Linked DNA regions of Homo sapiens. The protein of the gene in region 1 interacts with the protein of each later gene in a pairwise test. Each region holds a gene or a part of one and is shown in the gene's direction. Other genes may lie near its edges. The genes, in order: RASSF4 and RASSF3.

What was found.
Region 2: the proteins of RASSF4 (region 1) and RASSF3 interact in a two-hybrid assay, tested with the Homo sapiens proteins (one study listed by IntAct).

What each region holds. Positions count from the first base shown.
Region 1 is NC_000010.11:44,954,742-44,963,368, forward strand, and holds the start of RASSF4 (ras association domain-containing protein 4), read left to right. Parts: upstream 1-5,060; 5' UTR 5,061-5,125; intron 5,126-8,627. UniProt on the Homo sapiens protein: Potential tumor suppressor. May act as a KRAS effector protein. May promote apoptosis and cell cycle arrest.
Region 2 is NC_000012.12:64,690,396-64,698,096, forward strand, and holds the end of RASSF3 (ras association domain-containing protein 3), read left to right. Parts: intron 1-1,074; coding exon 1,075-1,184; intron 1,185-4,367; coding exon 4,368-4,517; 3' UTR 4,518-7,169; downstream 7,170-7,701.

The sequences.
Region 1 (8,627 bases):
GAGACCAGCTGGGCAACATAGAGAGACCCTGTCTCTACAAAAAATTTAGAAATTAGCTAGGTGTGGTGACCCATGGCTATAGTTCCAGCTACTCAAGAGGCTGAGGTGGGAGGATCGCTGGAGCATAGGAGGTCGAGGTTGCAATGAGCTGTGATTGTCACTGCACTCCAGCCTAGGGGACAGAGCACGCAAGACTTGCCAAAAAAGAAGAAGAGAGAGAGAGACAGAGAGAAAGAAAGAAAGAAAGAGAGACAGAGAGAGAGAGAAAGAAAGAAAGAAAGAGAGAGAGAGAGAGAAAGGAAGGAAGGAAGGAAGGAAGGGGATGGAAGGAAGGCAAGCAAGCAGGGAGGGAGGGAGGGAAAGAGGAAGGAAGGAAGGAGAGAGAGAGAGAAAGAAAGGAAGGAAGGAAAGAAGGGGGAGGAAGGGAGAGAGAGAGGAGAAAGAAAGAAAAAGAAAGAAAGAGAAAAAGAAAGAAAAAGAAAGAAAGAAAGAAAGAAAGAGAAAGAAAAAGAAGAAAGAGAAATAAAAGTCATTTGTTTTTAATTTAATGTTGGATACAATGAAGGGGGAAAAAATCACATGAAGCCATCCATAAAAGGCCTTAAGGAATCAATCAGATCTATCAGAAATTAATTCAAAATCCCACTTACTGTCTTAAGAGAATGGCTTGAAAATGGTTCTCATTATTAATATCATTTACATCAAGATATATAAACCTATTTTTCAGGACTCAAAAATCTAAATGACATCTCAACAACATGTGATTGTACCCAGGCATTTCCCCCTGGGAGCACCAAAGGGAAGAAGGTAATTTTTCGGTCTTTTGGAAGCTGTGCCCTGGTGCCAAGATGCCTCAAGCCAAAACCACACAGAGCAGCCTGCCTGACAGATGGGCCCAGTAGCCTTTATCAAGCTCTTAGGCTCTTATGAGCTTCCCTACTTGCGAATTAAACATAAATTTATCCTTTGCGGCTCTTTCATAAAAACACTGGCTCATGAGTGTTTCCATTTGTCTTTTTACGGATCTTACAAGTCAGTCCAAACTGTTTGCAGAATAACAGCATTTCCTAAGTCTTTCTGAGGTAGGAAGGCCAAAAAGAATGCAATTGCCCAAGACGAACAGGACACCCTGCTCACTTAATGGACTCCCAAAGGCCTCCTTTACTGGGGCGGCGCCCTGGAGCAAGGAGTCTTGCAGGAACTTCTGTGTGGCCTTGGCTCCCCTGAGACCCAGTGTGTTCCATTAGAGGTAGATGTTGTTTTTCCCTCACTCCCGGGTGGTACAGACACCACCACATTGGGCCATCAGGCACAAACCTGGACTCTGCCACTATCTGCACATGTCATTTGGAGGGGGAACTCAGCCTCCCTGAGTTTGTTTTCTTACCTGAATCTGGCAAAAAGAAAAAAAAAAAATCAATCATACATCAGATATTGATTAAACACTGTGACAATCCAGACAGAATCAGTTTTTAAGGAAACATAGTGTCTCTTCCTCTAGGAGCTCATGATAAAGACTGGAATATACAGCATGCCAGAGTGGTATGCGTGGGTCAGGGACGGGCATTTTACAGAGGGCCCAGGGACGACCTGAAAAAGGAGGTGATTTGTGATTAAAGACCTGAAGCAGGGGAAGGAGGGAGCGCTGTGGACATCTGGGGAAAGAGCCCTCCAAGGGAAGGAATGACCCTGACAGGAACAGGCTGGGTGTGTGGGAGAAACAGTGTGATCAGAGCAGGGAGAAGGAGAGGCAGTAGGAGGAGATGAGGTCAGAGAGACAATTAGGGGACAAGATCATCTAGGGAAGGGGTTGGCACACTATAGCCCTGCCATCCATTTTTTAAAATAGTTTTATGAGAACCACAACCATGTCCTTTGGTTTACATATTGTCTATGGCTACTTTCAAACTACCCCAGTAGTGGTGAGTAGTTGTGACACGGACCATTTAGCCCACAAAGCCTAAAATATTTACTATCCAGCCCTGTACAGAAAAGGTTTACCAACCTCTGCCTTGAAGAAATAGGGGCTAATTTTTCTCCATGGTAGGGAGTCTGGAGTAGGCAGTGCAGGGTTGGTGCAGAAGCTCCATGATGTTAAGAAGGATCCAGACACCTTTGATCTTTATGCTCTGCCAGCCTCAGCATGCGGACATGTTGCTTTATGATCTCAACATGGCTGCCAGTGCTCCAGACATTACACATCATGTCCTCATTTGAGACAGGCAGGCAGGAGAGACATCTGTTCTTTCTACCAGAAAAGCAAAAGTTATCTTCACCATCCCTCAGATCTCTCCTCCCCCAGGACACCTTCCCCCATCTCTGCGTCCAGAAGTAGGTCGTATGGCCACTTCTAGCTTCACTGAAAAAAAGCTATGAAAAGGATTGTCAAGACTTAGACAGCTGTTTTGTTTTTTTTAACTGTAACCCACAGTAAGAAGCACACATAACTGAAACATAAACAATGCAAACAAAAAGTTCCACAAAACACAACTTATATTTACTATTTGTGCTGTACACTGGTATTTTCCCTTGCATTTTTGAAGTACTAGTCACATCATCAACTAAATTAATTTCATGACCCACTATTGGGTTGTAAGTAGAGTATGAAAAATACAAGTGGGCATGAGCCATAACTAGGGGCTGGCATGTTGCTGCTACAGACAAGTGGGTATTTCTCTCTCCTTTCCTTCCCTCCCTCCCTCTCTCTTTCCTCTCTTCCCCATTCCCTCTTTCCTCCCTCCCTCCTTCCTTCCCTCCTTTCCTTCCTTCCTTCCCTCCTTTCCTTCTTTCCTTCCTTCCTTCCGTCCTTCCTTCCTTCCTCCCTCCCTCTTTCCCTTTCTTCCTTCCTTCCTTCCTTTTTGTCCTTTTCCTTCTTTCCTATCTTTCTTTTTTCCAAAGAAGGAAATGGACATTGGCTGGCAACCAACAGTATCTGTAGCCTCCACCATAAGTGAGCTGGAGACCACACCCAGTTCTACTGAACCCTGAAAGAAAAGGTGACCCCTCCTTCTGAGGGGTCTGACAATGGACCCTCCCCTTCTGAGGGGAGGACGCTGACAATGGACACCTGTGTCTGATGTAAAATGCAAGCACTCACAGCCATAAAAGAGAATAAAATCGTGTCCTTTGCAGCAGGATGGATGTGGCTGGATGCCATTATCCTAAGCGAACTAATGCAGAAATAGAAAAGCAAACACCACATGTTCTCGCTTACAAGCAAAAGAGCTAAATATCGGGTTCACCTAGACATAAAGATAAAAACAATAGACACTGGGGACTTCAAAAGTGGGAGGGAGACAGCGGGGCGAGGGGTGAAAAACTTCCTATTGGGTACTATGCTCACCATCTGGGTGACAGGATCAATCCCAAACCTCAGTACCACACAATGTACAATTGTAACAAACCCGCACGTGTATCCCCTAAATTTAAAATAAAAATGGAAATTTTAAAAAATGCAAGCAGTAACACCAACTGCCCAGGAGTGCTGGGGGAATTGCATGGGATCCCCAATGTAAAGCACTAGCATAGTGTCTGAGCCCACAATGGGTGCACAGGACACATGGGGTTGCTGTCCCAAACCCAGTCCTCACTCAGAGCCAGTCATGGCCCTGTGAACAGCATTAATTAGGTCAGAGAGAATGATTCACACTCGAGTTCTGGAGAGCCCAGGGAAACTGTTATGTCACCCTGGTGCTATGTTTACTTCTCCTATCAGGAGTGATTAAATTCTTAGGATCTCATGCTCAGAGGTTGACAGTTATATTGAATTTTACCCACTTTTAAAAAACCTTTGGAAGCACCCGATTATTTGTCTCAGCTTTGATGAGGGCTGTGGAAGAGCAAATGTGTCATGACAAGTCACCAACCACAGGGAGCCTCAGAGCTGTCAAAGGATGGGCCATTCTCCAAAAATTCAAGCAAACGCAGAAACGGGAGGGCCCCTGGACTGGGTATCTTCAGTCCTGTCACTTTTTGCAGGTGGGGGTTCCAACATAAGTCATACAGCAGCCATACAAGCATTAGCACAGCCCCTCTAAGTCGAAGTTCAGGGACCCATGAGACTCAAATCCCAGGCTGATTTTGGTGCATATGGCCACCTGCACTTTCTAGAAGATCCATATCAGATTCTAAAATGGCCATGAGACCCTAAAAATATTAGGAAACGCACACTGAATGAAACTAAAATGATTTATGTTAGGGGTGGGAGAGAACAGGTCCAGAGGTCAGAGCTGGGAATCGTGAGGTAAAGCAGAAATTGCAAATGTTTTCCATCAACCCCATCCCCCACCTTGACACCCCCACACCCCAGAAACACTGAACTGTTCCCAGTTCCCCAAATGGCTTGTGGTTTTCTGTCCTCTCTGCCTCCGTGCTGGCAAATATTCGTCCAGGAGGCAGTGACTGGGAGAGAAAGACTAACTTCTTATTCACCAGATCGGATTTCTTAAACAATAAGGAGTTCTAAGAGGCCATGCCAAGCAAACGGCCAGACTGTACAAAGGTGCCCCTTGAGCAATAAATAGCAAATGCTCTGGGCTTTACTGATAAGCCTCCCCAGACTCCAAGCCCCACCAGGCATGCAGACAAGTGCCTGCAGTGATTGCAGCGCCTGCGCAGCGGCCCTTGTTGGAAGTCCAGGAGTCCGCGCTACCCCGCAAAGTCCCTGGCCGCTGCCCGCACACCGAACCTCTCGGGGCTGAGTCGGGCTGCTTTCTCCTCGCGTCCCGGGGCGCCCTCGGGAACTCGGGAGCGCGCGGCGAGCTGAACAATGGCCTGGGGACACCTGGCAGGTCGCAGGCCCCAAATCTTCCCCGCCGCCCCTAGGCCACCGCCCTGCACCCGGAACCTACCGGCGTTCCCAGAGCGGGGCGGACGGGGCGGTGCCATTGGCCGGTGCGGAGTGAGGGGCGTGCTCGGGGCGGGACGGAGAGACCGGGGCGGCACCTTTGGCCGTGCCGGGCGAGAGGCGGGGAGCGGGGCGGGGCGAGGGGCGAGGGGCGGGGCGAGGGGCGGGCCTGGCCCCGAGCAGCTGAAGCCTGGGGTCAGCAGGCGCTGCGGGCGCAGCTCCGGTGCAAGCGAGGACACGACACATGCAGTGGCTTCTGGACTGCGCGATGACTGGACGGTGAGTGATGAACGAGCAGGAGAGTGCTTGGGCGTCCATGGAGCATCCCCTCCGACCCAGGACTGCCACCAGGCAGGGACGCTGAAGCCTGGGCACTTGTGCCCTTCGGCCGCAGCGCGCAGGGTCCCTCCCCCGCCAGCCTGGCGCATTGCGGGCCTCGGGCTCATTGCTGAGAGGGGGCACTGCGCCTGGCACCTCTGTTAAGCAATTTAGGGGCTACAACCTGAGCAAGACAGATGAGCCCGGCCACTGGCTACACCTTTTTTGTTCACCTTGTCCTTAACCAGTTTCCTAGAAGCACTGATCCTAGAGTTGGGGAGAGAGCCTAGAGGCCTCTGGCACAACTCTGATTTCACTGATGGAAATCGAACGCCAAGATAATAGCAGCAGGGGGGGTCTGTCTCACAATCGCTGTCTGTAGAGGGCTCGCCTTGCTCTGGGCCAAGTGCTTTAACACGATATGCCTCTTACTCCTCACAGCAAGTGAGAGTCCTACTTTCGTTATCCCCTTTTCAGATGTGAAAACTGAGGCTTAAAGAGTTATAAAATTGTCCACCTTTACCGGATGAGTTGGTGATGGAGCCAGGATTTGAACCCAGGGCTTGTTGTGCCCCTGAGTCTCTTGCTCTTCACCCTTAGTCTCCGAAGGTCAGCCTGCCTGCTGCCCTGCTCTTCTGGGCTCCTGACTCCGGTCCCATCCTGCACTTCCCACTTCCAAAACATGCCTCAGTGTTTTCATTAACCTGGCACGGCGGAGGGAGGGAGGCCTCCTCTCACACCAGAATCAGTGCCCAGGCCAGGGCCAGCACTTTCTTAAAACACAGTAAGGACAGCTTCAGGAGCCCCATTTCACATAGGAATTAAATAAGGTCGCACAGCAAATAAGGGCTGGGCTTCTGGAATTTGAACCCAAGCAGGTTAGACTCCAAAGCTATGCTTTGCACTCACAGAGGAGCCCCTCGCTGGCTTTGCTGTAGTTTAACTGCCCACAGTACTAAGGTGTCAATCAGGATTTGTTGCCAGAAACCATTTTTTTTTAAGTTAGAAGTGAATTGGTGAAGTAACAGGTAAATGTAGACCATCCTGCCTTCTGTTCCTCTGTGTGGTTCCTTAGCTACTTCTGCCAGGACAGCAGGTTAGGGGAGAAGACAGGAAGGGAGAGGGTCAGAGGAGAAAGAGGAAGGGAGGGAAGAGGAGAGATGAAACTCATTAAACTTAGGTTAAAAAAATGCTGGCCGGAAATTGTCATGGGCTGTTTCAGCACTTTGTCAGTGTATGTGAAGGCTGTTGTCATTAGTTCTAGCCATAATTCTCTCAGTGTGTAGTGCTGGTGATTTGACAACAAAAAGGTTGATGCTACAGATTAAAGTGTCTGTCTGAAACTCAGGAGATTGGGTTGTATTTCCACCATGAAGCTCCAGTGGGTAGCCTGGAGGTCGAGAACAGAATCAAGGTCCAGGGTCGCCCTGGGTCAGGACCAAGTGGACCATGACAGATAACAAAGAACATGAACGAAACTTGGGTGTGTGTCAGAGTTCAGATTCTGGACGTGCAAAGCCTCAAAGGGGAGACCTAACTAGGGGATCTGCCAGAAAGCCCTCTGCCCTGGGCCCCTGGGGTCTGGGGCCTGGTTTCAGGTGTCAGCTCAGACTCTCTCCTCATTCATGGCCACTCCTGCAGGCAGGCCTCACATTCCCATCTCTGGGGCTCCACAGTCTCTCCAGAGCCCCCAACTCCCAGTGTCAATAAGAATAGTAATGGGAGCCTCTTTTCATTATGGGTGAGCCCAACACAAGGCCCATCTTACAGGTCTCCTCATTCGTCTTCACAGAAGTCATCGAGGATTATAGTTATTTAATTGATGAGGAGCCCAAGGTTCAGAGAGGGAACTGGACTTGCTTAAGGTAACAGAGCCAGGCAGTCACAGAGCAGAGCTTTAAACCCAGAGCCTTGCAAAGGCTAGGTGGTTATTCTCTCACAGAGTATGTTTGGGGAAATTGTTTTAAAATAAAGAAAATCAAATAAGAAGTGGCTGCACTTCCTAAAGCTTCAACAGTTTTCTTATTTTTGTAAAAGAGAAACTTGTAGTTCCCGGGGTCTCCTTTTCTGGCTGTCCCACCTTCTGCCCTAGGATATACTGTTGAGGAAGAGGCCCGGAACCCCCTCCCTTTGCCCTGCCTGACCTTGGGAAGCAGGGGTGGGGTGTCATTGAGCCCCATAGCTGCAGTGCTGGGAAGAGCCCTGAAGACTCTCTATCAGCTGCCACAACAGCTCTGGCTAAACTGATGCCCAAGAGACGGCGCAACACGCTAGGATCACAGGCCAAGTTAATGCCACAGCAAAACTCACATGCAAGGCTCTACAACGTTCCTCTGCCTCCTCTTTCTTGCTGTGACAGGTTTCAGCAGAGATTCTAAACCTAAGATCTGGGGATCTGGGAGTACATGGACAAGAGCTGTCTCATCTCCCTGCAGTGATATGCAAATTGTGTGTGTGTTTGCACGTGGATGCAGATTGCAACAACATGCACATACATGCATTTTCTGGGGAGAGTGCACTAAGCTTTCAAGAGACTCCAAAGGACTCTATGACCCAAAAGATTCTGGGACCCTTTTGTCTCACAGGGCCCTTATGTCCCCAGCAGTGACATGTGGCACACAGGCCTGGGGCAGTGGACAGCACAGGTGAGGGCAGCCGTAGAGAGCCTCCAGAGCAGCCCTGCAGCAGCAGGCACCCAGAGGGGTCTGCCCCTCTGCATTGCACTCCCAGCCCCAGGCAATCGGGATATTGGACAGTGCCCATTTTGAGCACGTTTGGCCCGAAAACCATAGCTAAGAAGATCTTTGTTTCTGTGGATCTTCTCTTCCATAGGCTAGAGGTGAGCCTGGTTGGTGGGGAAGTTGAGGAGTGGTTCAGGGGGTTCCAGGAGCAGAGAATGTATGTTTAAGGTGTAAGGGGGGAGCAGGAGGACTGGAAATGGTTTTCTTGTCCCAAATTGCTTTGCCTTGAAACAAGGGCAGAAGCCAGAAGTCTTGCCCACTGGGAAGGCTGGTCTGCGATCTACATGGCTGCTCAGGGCCAGGCTCTCAGAGGAAGGGGAGCTGTATCAGGGAGGCCTGGATGCTGGACTGGACTCAGAGAGACCTGTCAGTGAGAGGCCAGAACCGCAGCGGGGAGTAAAGGTGAGCTGGGCCTGTGTGGTCAGTCCAGGGCAAGGCGGGAGTGGAGGTGGAGGGGAGCTCTGTGCCCGCCTCTCCTGGACTCCCCTGGTCTCCATCACCTCCACCTGGACAGTGCAGAGTCTTCTGGGGCAGGGAGGAGTGAGTTGAGCCAGAGGGATGATGGCGGGAGTGGAGAGGAGGGGTCTGGTGATTGGAACTGGGCAGCAGGAGGGGACAGCAGTGTGGAAGGAGGTGGGAGCAGCAGCTGCTGAGTCGCCGCCTGCCATCTACAACCAGACAGCCGGCTCTCACCACAAAAATGCTTGGCTGAGGGTACCCCC
Region 2 (7,701 bases), on another chromosome or scaffold:
GCTGGTCTCAAACTCCTGACCCCAGGCAATCTGCCTGTCTCGGCCTCCCAAAGTGCTGGGATTACAGGTATGAGCCACCACGCCTGGCCTTGGTTTTTGAGACAGCGTCTTACTCTGTCACCTAGGCTGGAGTACCATGGCATGATCATAGCTCATTGTAACCTTGAACTCCTGGGCTCAAGTGATGCTCTTGCCTCAGCCTCCTAAGTAGCTAGGACTATAGGCGGGCCCCATTATGCCTGGCTAGTTAGAAAAAAAAATTTTTTTTTTTTGGAGACCAGGGTCCTGCTATGTTGCCCTGGCTGGTCTCGAACTCCAGGCCTCAAGTGATCCTCCTGCCTCAGCCTTTAAGTGTTGGGATTACAGGTGCGAGCCACTATGCCTGGCCTATTTTTATTGTTTTTAAAGGAGTAGTGGACCCTTTTTTAGGTTTCTTATCTTGCCTTTTTTTTTTCATTTAAAAAAAATTTTATTTATTTTTTGAGACAGAGTTTCACTCTTGTTGCCCAGGCAGGAGCGCAATGGCACGATCTCGGCTCACTCCAACCTCCACCTCCCAGGTTTGAGTGATTCTCCTGCCTCGGCCTCCCAAGTAGCTGGGATTACAGGTGCCCGCCACCACGCCCGGCTGATTTTTTGTATTTTTAGTAGAGACAGGGTTTTGCCATGTTGGCCAGGCTGGTCTCAAACTGCTGGCCTCAGGTGACCCGCCCACCTCGGCCTCCCAAAGTATTGGGATTACAGGCATGAGCCACCATGCCTGGCTCTTACCTTGTTTTCTAAAAGGAAGAGCAGAGCTAACTATAAGCATATTTTGGGACTAATATCTATTAAAATTTATTCTTGAAAATAATTTCCTTCTTAATCAAGGCACAGTTTATATTTGAACAGAAACAGAATAGATTTTATTCCACTGTGGGCTACTGGTATTAAATAATAAGATGAGCCGACTGGCGACTTAGAGGCTGGGGTAACTTGGATGGTTACCTTGATCTGGAGGAGGGGATCACAATGGGGAAGTGGTCTCAGGAATGGCTGAATACTCTGTAACATGCTGCTTGTTTCTTTACCCAGTCTACGCCTGCAAGCTCTCAGACCGGGAACATCCACTCTACCTGCGTTTGGTAGCAGGGCCCAGAACAGACACACTTAGTTTTGTTCTTCGTGAACATGAAATTGGAGAGGTAAGTTATTGTTCACTATTGCTTTAAACTATACAGAACAGCTGGCCCTATTTTATTGCAGTAGCCTAGTGACTTGGCTATTGATGGGGGATGGGAAGAGAAGAGAGTTGGAGGGCAGGGGGATGGGAAGAGAAGAGAGTTGGAGGGCAGGGAGAGGGAGAGGGATTTTGAATTGTCAGAAATGAACCCAAAGTTAGCCTATGATGTCATTCTCTCACAACCTTATATTATTAGTCTGTCATTTTCAGAGGTGGGAGAAAATAAAGTTTTTTTACTTGATCTCCATCCAGAGAGTCATTTTCACCCCTTCCCACCTCCAAAATACTCCAGTCCAGCTGAACTTTGAAAGTTGACACTCACCATGTGTTTGCTACTAACAAAAGTCTCCAGGCTAATTCCCTTCTAAAGGGATATAAAAGGAAATTCGATCTCTTTACCATGGAAGGCATTTAGCTTTCTAGCATCTTTTTTTTCCCCCTTGCCCAGTCAACTGATTAAGAAATTATGTTTCCATGTGCATCATTTGCCATGTTGTCTCCAGGGAGGATTGTATTTAGCCAGTTCAGTAGAAGAAAAAAAGCACTTGAGCCTGCCCTCTAGATCAAGTGTCAGCTTTAAATGACACTTGAGCAAATCCCAAGCTCCTGTCCCAGTCTTCTGTCTGGAACAGGAAATGGTGTGAAATGTCCTACATGGTGCAATTGAGAATAGGGTTTCTAGGTTAAAAGTTAGGAAACGGCTCTGTTTCCTACTGTTTGTTAGATTAGTAGCATGACCTTGGATAAGTCTTCTAATCTTTTAGCCCTCAGTTTTAAAATCTGTTAAGTGGGACTAAACACTTTACAAGGTGGGCTTTGAGTCACAATTAGAAATGTATACATGTAAGTGAAGGGAGTTTTAGGAAGACAGTGGTTTTACATGTTTTTGAAGTTTCTTTTGATTCTGGTGTTTTGAAGCTTTTCAAGACATTCAGACTCATTTTGGGGAGAAGGCAGGGTGCAGAAATCTGACTTGGCTTTGCAGATGGTGACCATTCCCTCTGCCAGCTTAAGCCAGACACATTAGCATAGTCTACTCAGTGTTTTATTTTTCTTGTACTTAGTGTTTTAAGTAGCAACTAGAACTACATTGGGCAAGAATTTTATTAACTTGGTTATTTTATTGTATTTTAATTATAATTAGAGATAGGGTCTCACTACGTTGCCCAAGCTGGTCTCAAACTCCTGGGCTCAAGCAATCCTCCCACCTCAGCCTCCCAAAGTGCTGGGATTACAGGCATGAGCCACTGCACCTGGCCTTAACTTAGTTTTGAAATTGACTTGACATTGGGTTTTATTGTTCCAGACTGCTGTACTGGACCTCTGTATGGTGTTCTTATTTCTCAGTTATTTAAGGAAAACTGAACTGAGGAAGAAATTTCCATAGCTGTTAGGGGGTGGGAGGGATATTTATATGATGTCTTTATTTTGGAGACTTCAACATAGGTGAAAGATAATCTGTTAAAATTTTAAAAATTAACAGAATATTCTAACGTAGAAGTTTTGCTCTCCTACTCCATGTTGCTCTTTTTTTTTTTTTTTTTTTTAAATAACCAGCCTAAACTGTTCTCCAGGAATTCTTCTACCACTGAGCCCATTTGGTGGATTTACTTATTTTTCACTCTTTGTTTGTATTTGGTTATCTTGAATCTTTTCTCTACACCATCAGACAGCAGTTCTCCACCAGGATCCAGGGCCCCCTTTGGGAGAGGAGGATGTGTTTGGAAAAAACCTCGTAGATGATGCTAGATACCCTCCTTGACATTCACTGCTTCTATTTTTTAAAATCTGTTTTAATTTTTTTTTTTTTCTTTTTAAAGAGACTAGGTCTTGCACTGTCACCCAGGCTGGAGTACAGTGGCGCAATCATGGCTCACTGCAGCCTCAATCTCCCGGGCTCAAGCAATCCTCCTACCTCAGCCTCCCAAGTAACTGGGACTACAGGAATGTACTGCCACAGCCAGATAATTTTTAAATTTTTTGTAGCGACCTGGTGTCACTATTTTGCCCAGGCTGGTCTCGAACTTCTGGTCTTGAACTTCTGGGCTCAAATGATCCTCCTGCCTAAGCATTCCAAAGTGCTAGGATTATAGGCATGAGCCACAATGCCCAGCCTAAAAACTTATTTTGTGCCTGCTAAATAAGTACTAGGAGCTGTTAGGGAAACAAGGCTCAGAGCCTCAAGGCAAGAGATAAACTCCAAATAGCGAGAAGTACGGCAGCTGTGGTGTAGGTAAGGTGCAGGTGAGATAGATATTAAGCAAATAATTGTAATTTAAAAATCTTGGTTGTGATCAGGGGCTCTGTGAAGGCTTTTGATACACTTAGCCTTGGGTGGGAAGAGAGGAGAGGAAGTTGTGGAAAGCTGCTTAGAGAAAGTGGCATTTAAGCTGAGATGGGGAGGATGAGTAGTTCATAGCCAGGCAAAGTGGAGGAGGGGAGAATGCGTGCCACTTGGGCAGAGAGTGAAGCTCGGTGAGAGAGAGATGGGGCCGGAGAGTTTAGAGTCTTTCAGACAGCATCAGCAACTAAGGGAAGCCATTGGATGGTTCTAAGCAGGGGAGAGTCTTGGCCAGATGAGCATTTTACAAAGGATGTTCTGTTTGGGGAACAGATGGGGGAGCATAAGAGCCGAGTGAGGAGGCCAGGTAGGAAGCTGTTCCAGCGATGCAGGAATAGATGATAGTAGCTAGCACCAAGGGGCCGTACCGAGGGAGAAAAGGCTGAATGGAGAACTGTTTGGGGGTGATAAGACTGATTATGCGAGGTAAGAAAGTCAGTTACAATGAGGACTCGAGGTTAAGATGAAAGGACTGTCGAATTGTTTTTAATGCTGTTGGGGGTCAAATCAGGTAAGGAATGAAAGTGTCCAATAGACTTAGGGATATGGAGGTCTCTGGCTTTTAGGGAGATCGTCTTGAACAGTGGGAGGAGAGGGTAGGAAGGTGATTGGTGTGAGCTGAGGTGGGAGTGGGAGTGGAGGGAGCCCTTAGGCTGGCAACACCCCAGCTCTTGCAGACCACACCTTCTGCGGCATGGGGCTGGGAGGGGAGGGCAGCCGCACCTCTGGGAGCTCCTGGTCAGCATTCCTAAGTCTAACTGAGTATTAAACATCTGGCATTTTTCTTTCTGTGTTTCCTGACAGTGGGAAGCCTTCAGCCTTCCAGAACTACAGAATTTCTTGCGCATCTTGGACAAGGAAGAAGATGAACAGCTGCAGAACCTGAAGAGGCGCTACACAGCCTACAGGCAGAAGCTGGAAGAAGCCCTCCGTGAGGTGTGGAAGCCTGATTAAAGCGGGGCTCCCTGCCCGTGAGGCCCGGTGCAGGACCGATGTACAAAACAGCAGCAAGTGCCTCTCTTCTCAGAGGGCTGCTGTCTTGCCCCACTATGCTAGGGTCTTCGCCTTTCTATCTGTAGATTTTGTTCCCCAAACCTGGTCACACAGCATCCTGCACCTTAGCGTCCCATGTAAGGGACTCTGCAAGCTTGTTGTTCAGCACCGCAGTGTTACCTCTTGGCAAGCTGTGAACCTGTCGCCTCATCAGGAGCATTCGAGGGTGCTTGGAAGCATGAACTCTGGGGGTGTTTTTTTTTTTGGTTATTTTAATTATGTGATGATGCTGTTAAGCTTACAGATATGCAGTTGATTTTTTAAAAAGCTTAACTAGGAATCTTTCTGAATACTTGTCCTATTTTGAAACTACCTGTCTGGTTTTTTGTTTGGTTTTGTTTTCTTTTTTTAATGTCAGAGGAATCTATCCATGTGAATCGAAAGGCACAGGAATCTAGGAACTCTGAGGAATTTATTGTGAAGGATTTTGTTAGGGGGTTGACAGAGAAAGCAAAGTGTAAGTTTGGAAGAAGGCATGTGCGGTGGTGGCGAGTGCTGCGGGCTATGGAAGGTGACTTGGCTTTTCAGTTAGGGGTAGTGGAGAAAGGGGTAGTTGCTTGTAAACGAGTTAAAAGCATTCAGTGTGGAGGTGTTAAACCCATTTTAGGATCGCTTGGTTTCCTGGTGGGTAGAATATGGGAACAGAGCCAGAGGCAGGAGCTAAACCAAAAGGAGGGACCCATGAACTCTGCAGCTGACCAATCAGAGAATCAGGCAGGTGTAGCCTACTGACCTGGGCAGAGGTGGGCCTCACGCAGCTGGATCCGACCCTTTAATTCTGCCCTTTTGGAGTGGAAGGTCTGATTGGTGTAGCTGCTCTGCATAGGCAGGACAGTGACAGTTCACTAACTCTTGTTAAGTTACATAGTGTATAGCTTTCCCCCCACAGGTGGTTTTCAAAGTTGAGACGGAATTTGGGTAGGGGCAGCTGTTTTTCCCTTGATTGTTAGCTAGGATATTTGTCAAGTAAACTTTGGTGACAATCACTCTCTTCCCTTTTATTCCTCCTTTCCTTTTCCTTTCTTCCCTTTTTTCTTTCCTTCCCTGCTGTCTCCCACCCTACCTTGTTCTTTTCCTCCCTCCCTCCCTCCCTCCCTCCCTCCCTCCCTCCTTCCCTCCCTCTCTCTCCCTCTCCCTTTCTTTTCTACATTGAAATCTGTTCTTACATAATAGAGAACAGGGCTATTGAATAAAGACCCAATCCTACCAGATCTTTAGTTCTAAAGGGCAACTTGACTGTGAGTAGGAGGGCCCCCAAGAAAGGGAGGAAAGTCCACACCCAGCTAACCACACAACAGGGCTTCATTATGGAAATATTTTAACAAAAGTACATGTTATTACCAACCAAAGAGATGCATGTGCAATAGAAGCCTTCCTTAAAAACAGGCTAAATAACCTCATTTTATGCAGCAGTTTAATCTGAGAACAGAGGGAAAGGTGTGCAGTGGTTCCAGAGGGGCCTTATATTCTATTTTTAGTCTAGATATTTTTTGTTTATAAATTCCCAAGGAATTGTTAACACTTTGGTGACACCTAATGGATTCTTTTTGAAATTCCAAGGTGCTTCAGTTCTTTGCCCAAGTGAACTGTGCCTTTTATTGCATTTCTGTTCGTCTCTTGGTGGCTCTTCTGACTTTTTGGAGAATACCCATCTTGTTGGAGGCAGACTTAAGTTGTTATGCTGTGCCACACAATTTACTGAGACAATCATATCTTCCTAAGCATTTAAGGAAAGTTGAAAAAAATAGAATTAGCTATAAAATATGTATGGCACATCTTGTTTAATTTTGCATGTAACTTCTCTTTTGTACATTGATGAGGTTTTAGTGACATTGTCATCCAACACTTTACCTTTATTGTTCAGGGAATGCCTTCGTGATTTTTTGTACTGGTTTTATTATTCAGACTATGGCCTGGATTTGAGTATATTGTTATTACCACCTGGTTTTTTAATTATTCATCCCAGTAAACTTATATTTTGTGAAGCATTTGTTTCTCAGATTAAGACACTGTTAGAACCTAAAGTAGTAGCTGATGGGTATCTGTGAATTTTTTTTTTTTTTTTTTTTTTACTTGAAGTAGATTGTCTGAATAGGCATCCTCATCTATATTTACCCAAAACCTCGCTTACTGTCATGTGCACTACAAATTGCAATTTGGAAACCTACTGTATTGAAATTCTGTCAGTTTATGGTTCTTGAAGACTGATGTCCTTTCCCAAACACTGGTTACTGCAGCAGCATTTTTAATGTGTAAGTGAAGAAAAAAGGCCACTAAGGCCAAAGATTTTTTAAGAATCATTGTACAAATCATTATGTTAAACTATCTAAGCTTTGCTGTAATACTGTTTTCTCTTCAATATGTGATGGTACAGGAAGGATGTTAAATGAAGGGGTGGTATTGCAGGAGAGCATTTTAAATGGCAGAAGTAAAAAGTTATAATATTTATAATTTTGATGGGTTTAAGTTTATTTTTGTAGGGAAGATTTTTCTCCCCTAAAATAGTTTCTAGAATGGCAAAATTGTTTCCATTATTAAAAATTGAAGTTATTAGTTGTTTATGTGTGTTTATTTATGATAATATGCTAGATTTAAAAAGGTCACAGGAGTGCGCTGAGCTGCTTTTGCACATATACACAGGGACACATGCTGGAATGCAACAACTTTACTAGGTTCGCGTGGGTCATATTTGTTCTCCCAGATATCATTTTCTCTTTGCCTTATCCTCTGAGGAAAAATAACCCTAAGCTCACACAGCATATTCCAATGTATTTAAAACAATTGTTTTAATTTTTGAAATATACACATTTAAAAGTATATAAAGCATGCAAAAGAGGAGGGAGGCCGAGAGTGAAAAAATAAAAATAAAAAAGCATGCGAACAGTTTAAAGGATTATTATATAAAATGGACACCCCCTGACCATTACTAAAATAGAACCTTGTCAGTTCTTTAGAAATCTCTCCCTCCACCCCTGTTCTTGCCCTGAGGTCTCCTACCCCTGAAACATACCACTTCAACATAAAGTGAGTATTTGTATTTTTTTGGTCACCATGACTGCCTTACACAGATGGGATGGATAGTGTC